2 separate regions of the Homo sapiens genome follow, and region 1 is linked to region 2. A link means that fine-mapping ties the variant in region 2 to the expression of a gene that starts in the linked region. Tissue or cell type: whole blood. Region 2 holds a variant in brackets; the other region holds the start of a gene. All regions are shown on one strand. Distances are between the middles of the regions.

The links. PIP is the estimated chance that this variant, and not a neighbour inherited with it, causes the effect.
Region 1: it holds the start of SPG7, and the variant in region 2 is fine-mapped to the expression of SPG7 in whole blood (TOPMed, PIP 0.99).

What each region holds. Positions count from the first base shown.
Region 1 is chr16:89,507,271-89,509,945 of GRCh38, forward strand. SPG7 (SPG7 matrix AAA peptidase subunit, paraplegin) reads left to right here and starts at 1,133. Exons shown (of 17, transcript NM_003119.4): 1 at 1,133-1,330. The coding sequence starts at 1,148. It overlaps LOC101927863 (a long non-coding RNA gene), which reads right to left and starts at 1,050. Exons shown (of 5, transcript NR_188547.1): 1 at 967-1,050. RefSeq lists silencers at 447-516, 637-846, 917-1,476, 1,507-1,626.
Region 2 is chr16:89,316,220-89,318,872 of GRCh38, forward strand. ANKRD11 (ankyrin repeat domain containing 11) reads right to left here. Exons shown (of 13, transcript NM_013275.6): 3 at 714-859. The coding sequence starts at 800. It overlaps LOC128462377, which reads right to left. Exons shown (of 2, transcript NM_001416403.1): 2 at 827-856. The coding sequence ends at 827. Among named protein-coding and RNA genes, the nearest start is that of ZNF778, 100 kb to the left of the region's middle. RefSeq lists enhancers at 1-211, 11-110, 804-1,395, 1,396-1,987 and a silencer at 95-245. The variant T/C (reference allele first, on the strand shown) is at 1,098.

The DNA.
Region 1 (2,675 bases), 190 kb after region 2:
TACTTTTAATACTTCTGAATCTTTCTTTACATGTAAAATAGAGGTATTGTATTCGCTGCACAGGGTTGTGAATATTACATGGGTGTTCGACACGGAGCTAGGCACTCGGTGATGTTGGCTGTCGTCACTGGCATTCACTGTTACGAATTTGCGGAGTACAGAAAAGCATAAAAATAAATAGGTCACCCTCATCCTACCTCTGTGACAGACCATCTAGTCTTTGCTTTTCCTACTCAACAAGCTTTCCAGCTCTTGGCGTCAGCTCTAGACCTAAGGCGGACGGAGGAAGGGGTCGGGGTGGCGGAGGACCCCGCGCGCCTGGGAGCCCACGAGGGACCCTGCCCGGGCCCGGAGGGCGGACCCTGAAGAGAACAGAGCCTCTTCCTAAGCTTCCAGACGGCGCCTCCCCGCTTCCTACGATGGGCTCGCGCAGCGGCCGGGGCAGGACCGAGGCTCGAAGCGCCTCCGAGGTGAGCCAGTCCGAAGGCACAGGACGGAGCGCTCCGAAGTCAGAGGTGTGCGGGACGAGCTCTGCAGACGCCTGCCAGGCCGCGCCGCACTGCGCGCTCCCTCCCTCACGACCCTCCTCCTCCGGGGCTGCCCTCCCTGCGGCGGCTGCAACTTCAGTCCTCGTCCTCGGGCGGCTCAAGACGCAGGAAAACCGCCCCCTTCCTGCGCTCCTCACACCCGAAGGGGCCCTCCCGACCCGAGGCCTCCGGCGCCGCCCTCCTGAGCGCGGGCCTCTACTCGCAGGCGGGATTCCGGCCCGCACCATCCGCCCTCGCCTGTGACCGAACCCTGCGGGTGACGCAGGCTGCCCGGGCGTGAGGCCCCTCGGCGCGGGCGGAGCACGACCACGCAGCCACGACCCGGCCGGTTATTCACCCGCCAGGCCCTGGGAATACAAGGCCGGCTTCAAAAAAACCAGGGCACCCGCGACCTCCTCGCAGACGCGCGCCCCCATACCCGGGCCTCAGGCAGCCACGAGGTAGACGGGCTCAGGCTCGGGGGTGCGGCAAGCGGCACCCGGGCGCGGCGGGGCGCAGCTGTGGGGACCGCGCAGGCGCCACGTCAGACCCCGCCCACCCCGCCGCGCAGGCGCCGTGTAGCGCCCCGCGGATCACGCAGGCGCGGCTTTCAGGCCAACATGGCCGTGCTGCTGCTGCTGCTCCGTGCCCTCCGCCGGGGTCCAGGCCCGGGTCCTCGGCCGCTGTGGGGCCCAGGCCCGGCCTGGAGTCCAGGGTTCCCCGCCAGGCCCGGGAGGGGGCGGCCGTACATGGCCAGCAGGCCTCCGGGGGACCTCGCCGAGGCTGGAGGCCGAGCTCTGCAGGTAAATCCCCGCGGAGTCCGGGCCCCACCTCCCGCCCGGCTCTGCTCTGTAAGGCCCAGCCCGGCGGGGCGGGTCGGAGGCCGCCTGGCCCCTGCGGCGGGGGAGCCTGCGCCTGTGGGCCCGCGGATCCCCCAGCTGTGGACCTCGGCGCGGAGCGACTGTTGGGGCCCTGGATCGTGGGCGCTGGGCGGGCCGGGAAGAGGCAGGGCTGGGATCCGCGCAGTCCTCGGCGTGGACTTTCCCAACCCGTCTGTTGTGTGTGGATGTTCTCCGCCCGTCTTCCTCGCCTTTTAAAGTGGAATCCAGTAACGGTTTCCGGCGTAGCACTAATTTACAGTCCACGCCTGTGGATCGATTCCGTCACCAGGAATTCCAGCGCCTTCCAGTTAGGGTGGTTATTGCCGAGTAGGGGGCCCAGAACGTTTCTGTGTCCGCAAAATACCCTGTAGCTGCATTTTGCTGTTGTCATGTAGCTCGGCACGTTATTGATACAGTCATTGAGCACCCCCTGTAGTGCGGCCTTGTTTCAGGTTCTGCTAAGGATAGGATAGCATCTCCTCCCGAAAACCAGACCTTGTGTCCTTCAGCTTTTGGGCTGATGTTTTTTTCTCCTAGCCCTCGCCTAGGAGCTTAGCCCACACCTTTTAGGTTGTTGTTTTTTCGGTTATTTTTGAGACAGAGATCTCGCTCTGTCGCCCAGGCTGGAGTGCAATGGTCTTGGCTCACTGCAACCTCCGCCTCCCGGGTTCAAGCGATTCTCCTGCCTCAGCCTCCTGAGTAGCTGGGATTACGGGTGCGCGCCACCACACCCAGCTAATTTTTGTATTTTTAGTAGAGACGGGGTTTCACCATGTTGGCCAGGATGGTCTCCATCTCTTGACCTTGTGATCCGCCTGCCTCGGCCTCCCAAAGTGCTGGGATTACAGGGCGTGAGCCACCGCGCCCGGCCATAAAACATATTTAAATGGGAAAATGTTTATCTTGAAAGGAGAACTCTGAAAGTATATACTTGTTAACTGGTTTGGTACCTGGAAATGTTCTACAAGGAGCCACTCTCTGGTGACAGCAGGAGCCCCGTGTCTGGGCAGCCACTGTGGCCTTTGGAGAGCTGGGCTGCTCCCTTTCTCCTGCAGAAGCTTCAGGCCATGGGATAGCAGCCAATGTACTTCTGTGTTTTGTTTTCTTCTTTTTTTTTTTTTTTTTTTTTTGTGACAATCTCGCTGTGTCGCCCAGGCTGGAGTGCAGTGGCCTGATCATGGCTCCCTGAAGCCTCTGCCTCCTGGGCCCAAGCAATCCTCCCACCTCAGCCTCCCAAAGTGCTGGGATTACAGACATGAGCCACCGT
Region 2 (2,653 bases):
AGGAGACACCTGACTTGTTGACGGTCACAAAGATAACACATGGCAAAGCCTGAACTTGAACCTGGATCTGTCCAAGTTCACATTCGCTGGGCACACCCCAGAACTCGGCGTCTCCCCTCACAGTGCAGGACAGGAAGTCTGTACTTCCTAACACCCCAGAACCCAGCAGCACCCGCCAATACTGCAGGACAGGAAGTCTGCACCCCAGGAAACTGCATCACCCCCCACACTGCAAGGCAGGAAGTCTGCACACCAGGAATCAGCGTTAACCGCACATTAATAAAATGCAGTGGTTTTGATTGGCATCCCATTTTCCTATTCACATTTAGAATAAACCACAGTTGGAAGTAACGTGGCCCAGCATTGCTTGCAGTCAGGATATCTGAATGCCTGACAGGCCTAACAGGAGCCAGGACAGAAATCCTGGACTTCTGGGGGTAGAAACGTGCAGCCACATTGAGGCTCAGGCCAACTTCTGTACATAAAGCTATTATTTAACGCTTGACTTCGGTCCCCAAATAACAAATACAAAAAAAGCAAGGCCACTTTGGGAAAGATCACTCCTCACCACCCTCTCCACTCCTGGCTGCAGACAGAGGCACGAGGAAAGGGCCGGAGGGCGGAGAACAGGCCACAGGCGGGCAGCACCCCATTCCCACCTCATCCCCATCTGGGTGCGGTGAGCATGCAGGGCTGGGAGGGGGCAGCATTACCTTTTTCCCAGTCTGCTTCTCCACCATGTCGCTGCTGAGGGGAAGCTCTTCCTGCTGTGGTGCTTTAGGGCACCCACCCTTGGGCATCGTCCTGCTCCTCACCCGATCTTCATTTACACGGCCGGCGCTTCATCATCAACCGTCTGCTTCAAAAGAGAAGACACACAATTCACTGAATTCAGAGGCAGCTCAAAACTCATCCACTCTCACACCGCACTCAACAGACTCAGTAACTAGTCAAGGCAGGCAGCTGCTCTGATCAGGGCTGGGGCCCGGGCCAGGCCCAGGAAGGGACTTCTCAGGATACGCCTCCCATAAAGGGGTCACCAGCAACAGGAATGGCAGCTTTGAGCAGGAAGGAGAACAGAGAAGGGTCAAGCACTT[T/C]GTAGTGGCAGAAAGGGACGCATGGCCTAGGGTGTGGCTGTGTTCTGGGTGGCAGTCAGCAGCACCTGGATCCTGGGTCCCACCTGGTACAGGCTACACCCAAAACGGTCAGGCACCACAAGGCAGTCCCTTCCCCGCATTACAGGCAAGGTCACAACACGCAGCGCAGTACCCCAGCCCTCAGGTCTGGCAGGTCATGTCCACAGCCCCAGCCTCACGCCCCACTCACCACCTGGGAAGGAGCTCCTGTCCCCACCAGGCCTGTGCTTTTTGCACACCCAGTTCCCTAACTTGGTAGGCAAGGGGTGTCTCTGAGCGAGTCCCAGCAGCTCCGAGGTCCCAACTCCACGCCCATGGAAGCAGACGCCCCCTCGGGCCTCAGGCTCCAGCTCCTGGGTTTCCCAGGAAATCCGAGGACACATACTGTATTAATTGTATATTATTTTTATTTATTAATCATGTTTTATTTTAGGAAATTTTGCCATCTTAACAAGTTTCTGGCCAGGGAGAGACTGCCCCTCTCTCAGGGCTGGCAAATTCCTAGATAGCCAAGGGCTCCCATGCAACCCAATCACCTTCTTACCCAAGTTCACGCCCAGGCCAAGCCCTGCCTGAAACCAGCGCAGAGCCAGGTAAAGGAAACTAGAAAGTGTCCCTACAGCACAAAGCCTGCAAGAACTTTCCGAAGCAGCCACTCCCGAACTATTTGCTCTGCCCCGTCCCTCTCTTTCTGCAGGAAACCCAACAGGCAGTTGGGGGAGGCCTTCCCCGAGCCCCTGCTTCCGACTCCCACCCCCGTGGTGTGAGGCTGCCCCTCTGCGACACACGGTGCGAGCGCACTTCTTCCTTCCCAGCCTCGTCCTGGTCTCTTCTGTGGCGATGCCAACTTCCCCACGCCACGCCTGGCATGGACACTCTCGGAGCATGGGCCTCCTCCCTGCCTGTGGGCCTTCTAGGTTTGTTCACCATCACAGCCAGGCCTCCCGGGTGCACTCACGAGAGGAATGGGGGACACACCTACACACCCACACCCAAAGCCACTGTCCCCCCATCATGTCCTCGCCGCACCGTCAGTTAGAAAACATTTCATACAAATGGAACTGTGTGCACGTCTCTGCCCTTTCCGCCACAGCAGCACCTCTGTGCGCGACCATGCCGGGAGAAGCAGCTTCTGCAACTCGCTCCCCTGCATTTACCCATCTCGCTCATGCACGAAGTATGGCTTTTGAAACACGATGTGCAGACCCATCTGTGAGTGGCAGCTCCACTGTGAGCCTCTCCCACCTCCACCCCGTCAGCTAAAGGATACGTTGCATGCCACCTGCCCCTGGACGCAGGCTTGGCTGAGACCACAAGATGCTTCTCCTCCAACACCATCTCATGACCTGCTTTGTCTTTCTAAAATAAATGATAAAATCCCACCAACTGCTGTCTTGGTATTTAACTGGTACAAGAACACAGGTGAAGTTATTCTGGAGAGAGGGACAGGTCGGGTCAACGTATTCACTGCCTGACACCTCCACCCGCGGTGCAGGTGAGCAGGTGTTTCCATCCAC